Linked DNA regions of Homo sapiens: region 2 is linked to region 1. Evidence: fine-mapped expression QTL. Tissue or cell type: whole blood. Region 1 holds a variant in brackets; the other region holds the start of a gene. All regions are shown on one strand. Distances are between the middles of the regions. Region 1 overlaps CPNE2 (copine 2). Region 2 holds the start of CPNE2 (copine 2).

What was found. PIP is the estimated chance that this variant, and not a neighbour inherited with it, causes the effect.
Region 2: CPNE2 starts here. The variant in region 1 is fine-mapped to the expression of CPNE2 in whole blood (TOPMed, PIP above 0.99).

What each region holds. Positions count from the first base shown.
Region 1 is chr16:57,121,790-57,129,789 of GRCh38, reverse strand. It overlaps CPNE2 (copine 2), which reads right to left. Exons shown (of 16, transcript NM_152727.6): 10 at 6,317-6,376; 11 at 3,797-3,930; 12 at 1,887-1,941. Among named protein-coding and RNA genes, the nearest start is that of CPNE2, 33 kb to the right of the region's middle. The variant A/G (reference allele first, on the strand shown) is at 3,676.
Region 2 is chr16:57,088,849-57,096,848 of GRCh38, reverse strand. CPNE2 (copine 2) reads right to left here and starts at 4,266. Exons shown (of 16, transcript NM_152727.6): 1 at 4,059-4,266. RefSeq lists silencers at 3,775-4,184, 4,245-4,294, 4,405-4,654, 4,675-4,744.

The DNA of each region.
Region 1 (8,000 bases):
TGGAGTGCAGTGGCACGATCTCGGCTCACTGCAACCACTGCCTCCCGAGTTCAAGTGATTCTCCTGCTTCAGCCTCCCAAGTAGCTGGGATTACAGGCATGTGCCACCACGCTGGGCTAATTTTTGTATTTTTAGTAGAGACGGGGTTTTGCCATGCTGGCCAGGAAGATCTCAAACTCTCTGACCTCAAATGATCCATCTGCCTCAGCGTCCCAAAGTGCTGGGATTATAGGCGTGAGCCACTGTGCCCAGCCATCATCCACCTTTCTCCTGGGACTCCCACCTTACCATCTCCCCTGCTGAGCCTAGCACCCACCCCGTTCCTCATCTCAGTAAGCAGCACCACCCCCGCCTCAGTGCCCAGTTGGAAATCTTGGTGACCTCTTCGGCCCACACTCACTTGGTCACACAGAAAGTCCTGGCCTCTGCCCTGAGTTTCCTTGCCTTCGCCCCTTCTCTCCACCCTCCACTCTGCCCACTCTCGCCCTAGCCACGCCCCACTCAGCAGCCAGGAGAGGCCTTTAGAAATGCCAATCTGCTGATGAGCCCCTATGTGGTCCCTGCAGGGGTCCCCGTGGCCCTTTAACGCCCACATCTGTCTCCACCCTGCTCACCTCCAATGGAGGGTCTATCACCCACCTCTGCCAGTTCCTCCAGCTCGTCCTGCAGGCTTCGCACAGTCTGTTCTCTGCCCTGAAGGCTCCCCCTGCCCCACTGCCACCTCTAGTCACTCTGCTACTTCCCTTTCCCCTCTTGGCTTAGAGCTTGCCCCCTCCAGGAAGCCTGATGGCCCCAAGCTGGGTTGGGTTACCTCCTCGGCTCCCCACAGGCCTACGGTGCCCCCACCTCAGCACCGATGACACTACCTGTCTTTAGTGTTGCCATATAGAATACAGGATGCCCACTATGACTCAGAAACAGAAAACAAAAAACTGCATGTTCTCCCTTATAAGACGGAGCTAAACAATGGGTGCACACAGAACAGACACACAGAGGGGAATAACAGACACTGAGGACTCCACACAGCGAGAGGATGGAGGGGTGACGGATGAAATGCCACCTACTGGGTACAATGTACATTATTTAGGTGATGAATACACTAAAAGTCCATATTTCACACAATACGTCCTCGTAATACAACTATACTTGTACCCCTAGATCCATACAAAACCTTGAATTTCAGATAAACAATGGATGATTTAAGTATAAGTATGTCCCATGAAATATTCAGGACATACTTATACTTTAAAAATTGTTTATCTGCACTGGTCACAGTGGCTCAGGCCTGTAATCCTAGCACTTCGGGAGGCTGAGGCCGGTGGATCACCTGAGGTCAGGAGTTTGAGACCAGCCTGGTCAACATGGTAAAACTCTCTACTAAAAATACAAAAGTTAGCTGCGGGGTGGTGGTGGGCACCTGTAATCCCAGCTACTCGGGAGGCTGAGGCAGGAGAATTGTTTGAACCTGGGAGGCGGAGGTTGCTGTAAGTGGAGATTGTGCCACTGCACTCCAGCCTGGGCAACAGAGCAAGACTCTGTCTCTAAATAAATAAATAAATAAAAATAAACACATAAAAATAAACATTGTTTACCTGAAATTCAAACTTAACTGGGTGTCTTGTATTTTGATTTGCGACATCTGGCAATCCTATCTGTCTCCCCCACTCCACATGGGTCTCATAAACAGAGAACATAACGTGCTGCCCCGTTACAGCCTCAGTGCCTGCCCAAGGATCAGGCTTGAGAAATGAGCGTGGCCTGGGGTGAACACAGGGAAGGCAGGGCAACAGGGCCCCAGCCCAAGACCTTTCCAGAGCTGATCCCCGAGAGGCCACACACACAAACCCCATCTCAACCAAAAGGAAACTAACTCCGGTTTCACTCACCTTCCAGTCTGGGGGTAACTGGGCCCCGAATCCCAGAGCTGGAAACATCTTATCACTAATCAGAGAGAGAAGAGAAACACACTGTAAGACACCTGAGGACACCACCCGACCCTCTGCCCAGGGCTGGGCCCACTCTGCCTCATACACTTCCAAGGACAGAAAGGAGGAGCTCACCACCTCTAGAAAAAGCTGTTAGGATCATCTACCTAATGAGCCCAACCCACCTCTGGGGACCTGGTGAACATGTGGCCTGACCACATCTATACCTGTGGCAGACACGACAATGGTACTTCTAACCAATGGGCCTGGGCACAGCTTCTAGATCCTTCTCAAACTGAGACTTCAGCCAGCCACTAAACCAAGGTCAGGAGGTCAAGATGGAAGTAGAATGAATGTACTGGCTGTCTCTCAGCCTCCTGCTCATAGCTGGGGAAAACTCTACTAATATGAGAACCCTCCTGTGGCATTCAAGGTCCTGTGTCATCCAGTCCCAGAGCCTAGTCTTATCTCCTTCCACCCACGCCCCTTCACACCCCACTCCCCTAGCCCTGGCCACTGGCCACTTGCTATTCCCCAAACACATAGGGTACCTTCACATTCCAACTTCAATGCTGTTGTGCCCCCATCTGTAACATCTCTCCCTAATCTGTTTCCTCTAGCAAACTCCTACTCATCCTCTAAGGCCCAATCAAAATGGCCCCTTCGCTCTGTAGATTTCCCTGATACCCTAAAATGCCTCTCTTTTTGTGCTCCCATAGCTCCTGCTTCACATGTAAACTGGTCTCTCAGAACTCCGACGATTTCTTCCTTATCTTCCTCTTTAAGTGAGAACTCCCTGAGGACAGGGACCACATTTCATTTGTATGTGCACTCAACAGACATCTACTAAGGATCCCTTTGGCTGCCGTGGAGGGGACACACAGCTGGGGGCCAGGGCAGAAGCAGGGAGACTGATGAGGAAGCTAATGAAATGATCTGGGCACAAAGTGATGGTGGCTCAGCCAGGCATCTAGAGCTCACTGGGGCCATGCTAAGTCTTAATGCCCATTAGACAGCTCGGTGATGGGCTGAATGGGCAGCTGGACACCTGGGACTCCACCCAACCATGCTGATGATGACTTCCACCTCCCTTGCTCTGCATGTTGTACAGATCCCTGGCTGCCCCTCTCTAGGAGGCCAAGTCCACACAGGGCTCCTGAGCCTGCTGTCTTTCCTGCCAAATCTCTGGCACCTGCTTCTTCCTCCCCTGTTCCCAATGTGTCAGCCTCCTGGTCATTCCATCCTCTGACCTGGAGCTCCCAATCAGCACCATCTGTGACAGTGATGTCATATCCTGTTGGTAGCCACACCTGCCACACTTTCACACAGCTTCCCTTCACTGACTTTCCGTGGTACCCAGCCCGACCCAAAGGTCCCCAGGAAGCAAGGTCATGGGAGGAGGGTCCGTGCATGCTAGCTGCTCCTCAGAAGTTCCCAATAGAAGCGAGACCATTAGGGAACTAGGCGCCAGGCCCAGGAACCAGAATGGCTGGCCTCTGGTCCCATGATCTGCGGGACCTGGAACAAATTTTCCACTCCCACCCCAGGCCTCCCATTCCCCAGCTCTAAAAGGAGAGGATGCAGCAATAATGAATGAGTTTAATCTTCCATCATGATTCATTTTCTTACTGGCTACTTGGTGTACTGTGTAGAAAACGATCCCAGTTTGAATCTGCGCTTGGCAGGTTAGAGTTCAGCAATTGATTAGCAATGTCTGCCAAGGGTATGGGAATGGGTAATAACTGCACCT[A/G]TGCCATTTGCTGTCCATTCCTAGATTTGATGATCTCTGGGTCCCTTCTAGCTTTGATACACTGAGCTTCCCAGGTTGGATGGAACCCTAGCTGACCTTCAGAGCCCCTCTCCAACCTTACCTGTCGTAGTCCTGAATGATCTGCCCAACAGCCCAGATGGCCGACAGATATTCGTTGGTGCCCATAGGGTTGATATAGTGCAAAGAGGAAGGGTCGAGGGGATTCCCGTTGGAGGCTGTAAAGTCTATTCCAACCTGCAGAGTGGAGAAAAAGGCCACCCAGTGGGGCCAGAGACCCCAGCACCCTATCCCACTCCCAGGGAATAGGAGAGGTAGATGGGACATGGGAAGCCCACTCATCTCCCAGCCCTCCCCACAATAAGATGGTCTGAAACCTAGAAATGCTCTGATTGTATCACTCCTCTGCTCTAATGCCATCTGTGGCTCTCTATTGCCCAAGCATAAAGTCCACTGCCTAGATGTGATGACATAAGAGACTAACGTACAGTCCCAGATTCCTTTTTCTCCTTACTATCCCTATCCACACATTCATCTGTTCCCATATGCAGGCATTTATTCATAAGCTTCGCTCTGCATGCAGAGCCAGGCTATCGTTTCTTCCCGTCTAACTTTGCTCCATCTTCCAGGCCCAACTCAGATGCCACTGCTCCACTGCAACCTTCCCAGATAACCTCACCCCCAACCCAAGCCATCTCCCCATTATCCCTCAGACCACCAAGGGGCCTGGGACCTGGGGTTGCCTGGTAGAGCAGTGCCCGTCTCCCCGATCAGCTGGGAGCTCACCGCAGCACGTACTCTGGAGAAGCCTGGCCCAGGGCTGGGAACAGCAGACAAGGCAGGTGCTTATTAACAGGGACTCGGGGCTGATGGGCAGGCAGGGACTAGGGCTCTACCTGCTCTCTCAGCCCCAGAGAATCCCAGCCCAATCCCTGGAGAAAGGGCACAGAGGGGTAGGCAAGAACAACCCCTGCCCAGCAGGGGAGGGTTAGAAGTAGGACCCCGGGGAAGATTTGGCTACATGGGAACTCAGTTGCTGTGGGGTAGGAGAGAAGGGGCCACCCATCCAAATCCTCACATGGCTAGAGGGTCACTCCCCCAGGTCAGGGGCAGCATGTCTTAGTCCTTGAGGGACCGCTGCAGGGACACAGCCTAGAGCCCGGCACAAAGGAGGCAGTCAGTGTGAGTTCGCTGAATGAACAAACTCGTGCAGGAGGAACAGGAGGGCCTGGCCTCTGTGCAGGGGAGGGGGCAGTGGTGGGCAGCAGGGTCAGAAGTCAGCAAGGCCAATCCTCTGACTCCATGGCATCCTGTGATGCCCTCCATTTCCCATTAGGATCTAGGGGTGGTGATGGGGAACGGTGAGACAACATGGGGAGGTGGGCAGAGCGTGGCACCCCAGCAGCTTCCTCCCTTCTGGGCCTGAGGCTCCCTTGGGGTGAGGAAGCAAAGCCAGGATGAGTGGCACAGAGTCTGTGGGGCAAAGACTCCAGGCCACAGGCAAGGTGGCAGTTCATTCTTCCAACGAGAAATGATGGAGCACCTGCTATGTGCCAGTTACTGTGTGATATGCTGGGGTTGGAGTGGAAGCAAAATAAACAAAGTGCCCACACTTAAAAGCACTCACATTCCAGTGGGTGCGACGATCAGGGAGAAGCGACAAATGCATATGAATCTCGGGGCGGCAAGTGCCCAGAAAATAGGAAAATAGTGAGGGCCAGGCCCAGTGACTCATGCCTGTAATCCTAGCACTTTGAGAGGCCAAGGTGGGCAGATCGCTTGAGCCCAGGAGTTTGAGACCAGCCTGGGCAACATAGCAAAACCCCATCTCTACAGAAAATGCAAAAATTAGCTGGGCATGATGGCATGCACCTGTAATCCCAGCTACTCAGGAAGCTGAGGTGGGAGGATCAACTGAGAGCTGAAGGTGGAGGCTGCAGTGATCTGAGATCGTGCCACTGCACTCTAGACCACGTGACAGAATGAGACGCTGTCTCAAAAAAAAAAAAGAAAAGAAAAGAAAAGAAAAGAAAGAAAATAGGAAGATATGACAGAGGAGCAGCAAGGCATTGAGGGAGGGAGGGCTCCCTGGAAGGTGACCTCCGTTACCTCCTCAGGCCTGAAAAATGGCAGGTAGGCAGCCATGCAAAGGTTCTGGGGAAGTGTTTCAGGCAGAGGGAACAACAAATGCAGAAGGAACAGCAAATGCAAAGTTCTAACATGAAGCAAAGCTTGGCATGTTGGGCAAACAGAGGAAGAGTGTGGTTAGAGCCCAGTGAGCAAGGAGGAAGGAGGCTGCAGATGAAGGAGGCAGGGATCGCTGAAGGCCTTGTGGCCAGTGAGGAGGAATTTGTTTTCCTCCACCCGCAGAAGGAGTGTAGCCACCAGACTGAAAGCTGTGCAGCTGTGCTCTGACCTGTAGTTAAGCCCCAACTCAGGCACACCCAGCAGGACCAGACAGCCCACTTATGCCCTCCTCACTAGGCCGCACACACTCTTTGCCCCAGGGAAGTCCTTCCTGAAGTCTACCCTAAGTCCCTCTGGCTGCACTAGTGGCCCAAGTCTTCAGGGAGGACCCTCACTGGGATGGGGGTGCAGAGGGAGCCAGCGGGGAGAGCCTTACGGTGAACATGAGCTGGCAGCCTCCCAGGATGTAGTCAAGGAAGGAGTAGTCTCGGTTTATCTGGAAGAAAGCGGATGAGTCAGTGGGTCCCCTTGACTTGGTCACACTCCCCATGGGGGAGTTGTTGCTCTATGTCCTGCAACCTCAGTAGGGACAAGGAGGTCAAAAAAAGCTGATGGGCCTGATCTAATTACAACAAAACCCAAATCTCTCTATAACAAAGCCTTCAGTGCAATGGTTCCTAATGGGTGGGGGACTCACAGAGACCCCCACACCCCACAGATACACAGACACATGCTGGTTCCAGGCAGGGTGCCAGGGCCCAGTGTCAGTTACCTGACACAGAGTGTCTCAATTTGTCACTGTTAGGTACTTACCTTCTCCTGGCCCTTATTAATCTACCTTTTTAACAAAGAGAAAGAGCAGGCCTCCAGCTCAAGGCCTTCCTCTAGAAGTTGTTTTGATGGTCTTTGTCTCTTTTTGGCAAAGAAGGCAGATCTTTTAATTTTGGTAGAGTTCTAATAATCTCTTTCTAAATAAATGTATTTAAGTTAAAAAAAAAAAAAAAGAGAAAAGAAACAGGCCAGGTATAGTGGCTCATTCCTGTAATCCTAGCAGTTTGGGAGGCCAAGGCAGGCAAATCACTTGAGGTCAGGAGTTCAAGACCAGCCTGGTCGACATAATGAAACCCCATCTCTACTAAAAACACAAAAATTAGCCAGGCGTAGTGGCATGCACCTGTAATCCCAGCTATTTGGGAGGCTGAGGCAGGAGAATCCCTTGAACCTGGAAGGCGGAGGTTGCAGTGAGCTGAGATCACGCCACTGCACTCCAGCCTGGGCAACACAGTGAGACTCTGTCTCAAAAACAAAAACAAAAAACAATAATACAGGGAAGAAAGACTGATTCAAAAAAATAAGTAAGGCAGGTGCCAGAAATTGTGAAAAGTGATGTGAATGATGGAAACTTCAGAAACAAGGACCATCCATCACAAGGCTGCAACCTGACATCTTGACCTTTAACGGAGTGCTTTTTTGTCGTGACACCACTGAATGTTCGTGTAAACCCTAGCCAGACGAGGCTCCAAATAAGGTGGGAGTCTGGGATCCACCTGCTGGTGGAGAGCAGCGGCCAGACTCCTGAGCTGTCAGGCCCTGAGCCCAGGTCTCTTGCTCTCCTGCCCCAGGCTGCCTTCCTTAATGTTCTGCCAGATCCAGCAGTTATTTGCCCACCAGGTCTTCTGGCCCCCACCCACAGCCTGGCCACTGCTGACATGAACTTCATTGCCTTTCTGGGCCTCAGTGGCCCCGGCTGTACCATGGGAGTCACAGTGACGCTGATGCCAGAGAGGACAGGGTGTCCCCACCCAATGTCCTCTGCCCCTTGCATGCCCACCGTGGGCGGCAGCAACTCGCAATGACAATTCTCCCACCAGGACAGGCCCTGGAAGGTCAGCTCGTGCCTTCCCTGGCCTCCACACAGGAATGTGAGAGAAGAGTAACCCTGGACATGCTCTGCCTCGTTAATATCTCCATTCCACAGATGAGGAGACTGAGGCCTGGTGAGGTGAAGCTCAGAAGGCCATAGGGCCAGGATGTGGCAGAGCCGGGATTTGAACACAGGCCTCGCTGGCTCCAGATCCAGTGCTCTGTCTGTCCCTTCTGTGTGGCCTGAAACCTGGCCC
Region 2 (8,000 bases), 33 kb after region 1:
TCAGGAGCTGAGGATATCTGGCCTGCCTGATGTGCCCTGGCTGTCCCCTCTCTAAAACACAGGAGGGAATATGCCCAACTCCCAGCAGACAACTCCTGCAATCCCTCTTTCCTTTGGTTGGACCCCAAGTCTTTTTTTTTTTTTTTTTTTGAGACATGGTCTCACTGTTTCACCGAGGTTGGAGTACAGTGGCACAATCATGGCTCACTGCAGCCTCGACCTCCTGGGCTCAAGCAATCCTCCCACCTCAGTCTCCCAAGTAGTTGGGACTACAGGCATGCACCACAACACCCAGCTAATTTTGTTTATTTTTTATTTTGGTAAAGACGGGTTTTTGCCATGTTGCCCAGGCTGGTCTTGAACTCCTGGGCTCAAGTGGTCTGACTATCTTGGCCTCCCTCAGTACTGGGATTACAGGTGTGAGCCACCACGCCCGGCTCTCCCATCAGTCTTTCAGAGACATGCCCAACCTGAGAAAAGTGTATTGTAAGAGTGCAGTGAATGCTGGGAGCTGAGCTACTGGGTTTCAAACTCTGGTTGGCCATGGGCTAGTTGAGCACCACACACTGGATGGCTTAGATTCTCTCACAGTTCTGTAGGCTACAAGTTTGAAATCCAGCTGTCAGCAAGGCCATGCTCCTTCCAGCACTCAGTATGGTAAGCCAGAGATCCCTCCAGAGACTCAAGAGGGCAAGCTCGTAATTCTCCCAGGATCCATCACTCAACATCACAGACTCATTTAACAGGAGGCTGCAAAGAGGGGCAGGTGCAGTCATTCCTCACACAAGGATTTACTGAGCACCTACAATGTGCCAGGCACTGTTCTAAGTGCTGGGACATGGCCCTAAACAAGACAGACACTGTTTGCTCTTGCCTTTTTGTGGATCTGACACCCTTTGGGGAGGGAGGCAGATAAGCTGGTGCACCAATGAGTAAAGAAGATGGTTTTAAAGAGTGGCAAATGCCCCAAGAAAAATACAACCAGGAGATGCAGCAGTGAGGAGGGATGGTGACACAATCTCACTAGTCAGTCTCATTGCAGACCTCAGAGCAAGTGTGGCCAGATAAGTAAGAAATGTTCCATGGTCGGGCACAGTGGCTCATGCCTATAATCCCAGCACTTTGGGAGACCGAGGTGGGTGGATCACCTGAGGCCAGGAGTTCAAGGCCAGCCTAACCAACATAGCAAAACCCCGTCTCTACTAGAAATACAAAAATTAGCTAGGTGTGCACCTGTGATCCCAGTTACTTGGGAGGCTAAGGCACAAGAATCGCCTGAACCTGGGAGGTGGAGGTTGCAGTGAGCTGAGATCACACCAGTGCACTCCGGCCTGTGTGACAGAGCAAGATCCTGTCTCAAAAAATAAATAAATAAAAAATAAAAAAAGGAAGAAAGAAAGAAATATTCCAGGGTATGGAACAGCAGTCTTCTTGACTCTGCCATGGGAGTGACAGCCGAGGTCCAGTGGCCCAATGAGGGCAGAAGACATTGGGATGTGAGCCAGGAGGCGCCTCTAACCTGGGCTCTGTCCTCAGGCACTGTGGGACCCCTATGTCCTCCCTTCTGGACAGGGAGGTGGGGAGATGTGTGATTGTGGACTTTTCTAGATGCTGCCTGCCAAGATCACAGGGTGACCTGGCATCCCAGCTCCCACAGAGCCCACACCACCGTGTCTGGCAGGGTTGGGGGAGATCCCACCTCCACTCCCTGAGGCCATATTCTGCAAGGGGGAAGGAGCTGGGTCCTCAAGGTGTTTTGCTCCTGATTCGGTAGCCCCAGTGCCATCTATGAATAAGGTTCAGGGGAGGGGAGAGGGACAGAGACCTCCATCAGGCTGGGGGCACCCTGACCCTGAGCTGAGGGCTTCTCAGATCGGGACCGTGCCTGGCGATGATGCCTCCTGCTCTGACAGGAGGGAGAAAATTACTAGAGAGTGCTCTTTTGTTTTCTGTTCACTCCTTAGAGCCCTGTGAGGCCAGCCAGATGTGGGGAAATGGGGACACCTGGATGAGACCTACCACTTCTCCTGGTCTTCTTTCACCCCAGGCCCCTGCCCCTAGAACAGCCCAGAAGTCCTGACGGGAGGGGGAGGAGCAAGCTGGCCTGAGACAACCCCACAAAGGATCCTGGATGCAGTCACCCACATCAGGCTTCTTAATATTCCCATGGATAATGACAATGACAGTTAACCAGGCACTCACCACGTACCAATAAGTGCTGGCACCCGAGTCCTTGCAATCTAATTTAATCCTACCTTTGCAGAAATACACAATTACCTGAAAAGAATATGAAGGTGTATAGATATAAAAACTGAGGACTGGGAGGAGGACCAGATGGGGTCCAGTACTTACTGTTTTACAGACATAGAAACCGAGGCTCCATTCTCAGCCATCTTCTTCCCTTATGCCCCAGTTTTTAATTCTCATGACATTCCAGAGGGAGTGTCCGTTGGAACACCACCAGAGACACCACACTTGCCACTCATGAAGTGCTCCCTACTTGCAGAACGTCTGCTCCCTGTTCCCCAGTTCCAGCCTCCCAGCCGCCCTACTGTAAGCTGGATCATGTCACAGTTTGCCTCATTTTACAGACAGAAAACCCCCCAAGTCCAAGGGGTGACAAGGCACGCAGACAGGAAGTGACGGCCGCAAAACGAACCCAAGCGTCCACATCCTTCGTCCCTGGTTCTTTCCATGGAGAAACCTGCCTGGGTGACCCCTTCCAATCCAGCTGGCTGGGGCGGTCCTGGAGCTCACCTGGACCTATGCCAGGCGGAATGCCATAAAACCACGCCTTCATGCTGTGTCCATTCTCCAGGAGGCAGGCCCCGGAACATCAGCCCATTTCACAGATGGTGACCCAGAGGGCCACAGGGGGGGAGGGTCTGGGCCAAGTTCCCTGTTGGTCATAGGTGGGGTTCAGACCCAGGTCTCCCAGGCCTCCCCATCAGGGCAGGCTGCAGCTGCCAGGGATTACAATCTGCGCACACCGCCTGTTTCCTGAAAACCATGGGCTCCCTGCAGTCCGTGAAGCTGTGGATGCCCAAGGGGCAGAAAAAGCCCCCCAACCTTTGATGACAGCACACACCTCTAAGGGAGCAAAAAACTAAGGCAGACAAAAAAAAGGGCGTTTTGTCTGGAAGATCATTCTTCCAGACCCCTTGTCCCTTCCCCCAGTACATATGGGGCAGGGGATTCAGATGCAAGATGAACACCCTATTAGCTACCAGAGCCAGCAGCATCTGTGACCTTGGGCAAATCACAGCCCCCTTTGAAGCAGCCCCTTCCCCATAGGAGAGCTTCTTGAACTCGGGGGGACGTGGAGCGAGGCTGGGGGATGGGGTGGGAAGAGCAGGGAAGAGGGTGTAAGACCCCTCTATTTTCAGAGGAGCATCGCTGTGAGAAACGGGGAATAAGAGAGGGCCTTGTTCGCCCGCTCTCTCCATGCCCACCCCCACACCCCCTTTAAACACACAGGTGCCAGACAGCTTTTTCGCAAAAACTAGTTTGCAAACACACTCCGACTTCTGGGAAGCTGCCCAGCTCCACTCCCCCTCTGCGCTCCCAGTACCGGGGCTGGGAGCCGGCCCTCCGGCAGTTGCCTGGGGCAGGGGGTGGGTGTTGAGGGGTGGGAGGAGGGCAGAGGGGAGCGGAGAGGAGCCAGCGCCCGCCGAGAGCCAGGGCGACCTCACGCCTTCAGCAGCTGCGGCAGCGGCGGGTCTCCACCTCCCGTACGCCCTCCAAGCCCCTCGGGGCGGGTGGAAGGGTCCCCAAAGCAGCTGGGCTCGGACCCCCGAGGGCGCCCCCCTCCCCAGGGACCCCGCCCGCCCTTCCCCGCAGTCCGGGAGCCGGCGGGGCGCCCCCGCGTGGCCGGGTCGGAGCTGAGTCACCGAAGCGCCGGAGTCCGGGTTCGCGCTGGCGGCGGGGGCTAGAGCGCCGCAGCCCCCCGAGGCGGAACCCGGGTTCCTTCGGACCCGCAGCTGGATCAAAGAGCCCAGCCCCAAGGCCGAAGTTGGGCACTCACGCCAAGCTGCCCCGCCTGCCCGGGCCCCACTCACCGCAGGTCCCGCGGGCGCCACCGCCCTCACCGCACGGCTGCCGCTGCCCGCGCTCCGAGCCGCCCGGGCATCCCCGGGAGCTGCTCCTGCTCGGCCGGGCCCGCGGGCGCGGGACAGGCTCAGGGCGCTGCCCGCGCGGCCACGGCCCGCTCGCGTGCGCTCCCAGCCGCTCGGGGTCCGGTCCTCCTCCCGGGCCGGGCGGGCGGGCGGCGGCGGCGGCGGCGGCTCGGGCTCCTCCCTCCGGCCGAGGAGGGGAGTGGGGAGGGAAGTGGGAGGCGAGGCGGGAGCTTCCTGGAGGGGCGCGCGCTCTCCCACGGGAGGAGCGGGGGCGCTGTCCCGCCCGCAGTCCGCCGCTCCCAGCCCGCGCCCGGCGCGCCGCGGCACTCGGGGCGCCTGGCACCGAGGGGGCCCGAACGTTCGGGCCGAACGCGAGGGTCCGAAGGTTCCAGGCTGGGACTCAGGTGGCTGAGGATCGGAACAACGCGGCTTCGCGCCCTCCCCAGGCCTGCTTTGCCCGAGCCTCTGGCACCTCCGAGTTCCGAGCGCCGTGCGCTCAGGGCCACCGACGCGGGAACAGAGGGGTGGCCTCAGCCCGGGCCTGCGGGGCCCCAGGGCCGCTTGGACCCCCAGCGCCGATGGGAGCGGCGCTGCGCCCTCGGGGCAACACCCAAGGCTGGGTTCTGGGTTGTATTGGGCAGGATTAGGGCCGCAGTGTTTTCTTCCCTTTTTTTTTTCAATAGCAAAAGAGCTCGGCATTTTCTTGCCGCCAGAGATTGGAAATATGACATATTTCTCTGACACAGACGATAAGATAAAGACGGATCCGAACTGGGCCTGGGTCTACTCATCCGTGCGGAAAATTAGGCGAGTCTTTAAGGCCTTGGAGCCCAGGCCTCCTTTTCCCTAGAAGAGGCACCAATTCTTAGGACACTTGTCTGTCGCTGGGCGCTCAAGCCTTTGGCCACTCCGCGGTATTTAGGTGCTCTCTGGGCAAGTTCACCACCGGGCATCAGAAGGCTGAGCCTCACGTAACCAGATTCTGGGGGGCGGGGCTTTCCCGGGGATCTCAAGGCCATGTCCACAGCCCTTGGCCCTGGGGCTCAAGGACTGGGCAGCTGAGGGTTAATGCCGAGTGCTTCCATTGTGGCTTTTCGATTCCAGGCAGGTGAGGGTTAATGTGGGAGCCTCGCGCGCTGCAGCCTGTGAGCCTCCCTCCACGTCTGAGTCACTGGCACTTTGCAGCCTTACAGGGGCCGAGACTAAACAGCCCCCGGGGCTCTGAGCTTTGTTCTCTGCCTGCCTGTCACCCATCCATCTTTCCTTTCTCCAAGCTCTCTTCACCTTTCTTCCACCGAAGCCAATCAAAGCCCTCTGCCCCGCTCTGGGGCAAACCAACCTATCAACCCAACTCCAGCCCCGCTTCCTCCAGGAAGACTTTCCTGATTGCTCTGGCCTCAGAATCTGTCTCTTGTCTTTCCAGCAGCAGGAGAGCCAGGCACTGGGATGGACAGTGGTGAACCAAAGCAGATAGTCTCTCTCAAGTTGCTCACCTGTGGGGGCCAAGATCAGGACCCAGGCCATCATATCACCATATGAAATGTGCAAAGATTGGAGGTAGGGTGGCACAGAAGACCCAACTCAGCCATGGGAGTCAGCGAGGCTTCCTTTAAGAAACCTGAAGGATGAGATAGTTGGGCCTGTCAAGGAAGATACTAGATCCCTAGCCAAGGAGGCAGAGTACAAAGGCCAGGGGTCACAGCAATTCCACTCCTAGATATCTACCCGGGAGAAATGAAAACATATGGCCACACAAAACATACACAAATGTACGTAGCAGCATTATTCATAATAGCCAAAAAGTGGAAACCACGCAAATGTTCATCCACTGATGAATGGAAAAACAAAATGTGGTATATCCACACAACATAGAATATTATACAGCCATAGAAAGGTACGAATTACTGGCCAGTTGTGGTGGCTCACACCTGTAATCCCAGCACTTTGGGAGGCCAAGGCGGGCGATTACTTGAGGTCGGGAATTCAAGACCAGCTTGGCCAACATGGCAAAACTCTGTCTCTACTAAAAATATAACAATTAGCCAGGCGTAGTGGCAAGAACCTGTAATCCCAGCAATTCGGAAGGCAGGAAGGAGAATCACTTGAGCCCAAGAGGCGGAAGTTGCAGCCAAGATTGCGCCACTGTACTCCAGCCTGGGTGACAGAGGGAGATTCCATCCCCCCTCCAAAAAAAAAAAGAAAGGAAAAAAAGAAAGGTGGGAAGTACTGATACATGCTACAGTATGGACAAACTTGGAAAATATTATGCCCAGTGAAAGAAGCCAGTCTCAGACAAATATTACATGGCTCCATTTAGATGAAATGTCCAGAATAGACAAATCCACAAACAGACAAAGCAGATTTGTGGTTGCCTCGGCCGGGGAGTGGAGAATGGGGAGTGATTGCTATTGGCAAAGGGTTTCTTTGGGAGATGATAAAAAATGTTCTAAAGTTAGATTCTAGGCAGAGTGCGGTCCTGCCTGTAATCCCAGCACTTTGGGAGGCCGAGGCAGACAGATTACTTGAGGCAAGGAGTTCAAGACCAGCCTGAGCAACATAGTGAGACCCCACCATCTCTACCAAAAAAAAAAAAAAAATTAGCCGGGTGTGGTACCTGCCTGTAGTCCCAGTTAGGAGGCTGAGGTGGGAGGATTGCTTAGGAGGTTGAGGCTGTGGTGAGCCATGATCACACCACTGCACTCCGGCCGGGGTGACAGAACAAGACCCTGTATGAAAAAAAAAAAAAGTTAGATTATAGTGATGATTGCACAACTGTAGGTATTCTTAAAACCACTGACTTACACACTTTAAAAGGACAAATGTCATGGTGTATGGATTATATCCCCATAAAGCTATCTTTAAAAAAAAGGCCAGGGATCAGGAGAGCCCTGAAGAAGTTGATTAAGGCCAAGGATCCATCACAGGTTGATTCTACATGCTTTATCCTCATTCCACACCCAACACAAGACTGCAAAATGTTAAACGAAGTCTTTCCCTGCCCAGGTGGAGACCTCTCAGTGCACAGTGGGAGGCCTGAAGGCCCCGAAATAGACCCATGTCAGGGTATGTGTGTCAACACCTGCCATCTGGGTGTTTATTTTCACAGTCCAGGCTGTTTGGACAAACGGATCAGAATACCCAGGTTTGCCCATGCATGTCAGTGTGCTCGTGAATGAAAGACACATTGAAGGAGCGCCAGCTGTTCAGGGATCTGGCTGGGCCAGGAGTGTGTGAGGACTGGCGGAGGGAGGGTGTTCCAGTTATTTATGTTGCATCGCAGATCACCCCAAAACTTATCCCTCACACTTCCGGGGTCCTCAGGGCTCATCGAGGGCAGGTGTTGCACAGTGTTTCCCATACAGTTGCAGTCAGATCATGGTGGTGGCTGAAATTGTCTAGAAGGCTTTCTTGAACATATGGCTATCACTGGACGCTGGCTGTCATCTGGAACCTCAGCTGGAATTGTCAGCTGGAACACCTACCTGAGACCATTCCTTGTAGCCTGGGCTTCCTAGTGGCATGGCATAGGGTTCCATGAGTGAGCATTTCAAGAGAGGCAAGTGGAAGCGTTATCATCTGTTTCAGGCCCTTGCCTTGGGAGTCACATAATGTCACTTCTGTTGTAGTCACAGAGGGGTGTCACCGTCACATAATAGGAAGAGCATGTGGGACGGAAGATACTGTGATGGCTGTCTTTAGAAAATACCATGTGCCACAGGGGGTTGATATGGAAACATATCAGGATCCTTGAGGGATCCCCTCAAGGATCTCCTGGTTAGAGGCAGGTGTGGCTGACTCCATTGTCAAACCTCAGGCATGGAGTCATGGCCATGAGTTTGAATCCCAGCCGCTCAGCGGCTGCCTAGGTGAAATCACTCAATCCTC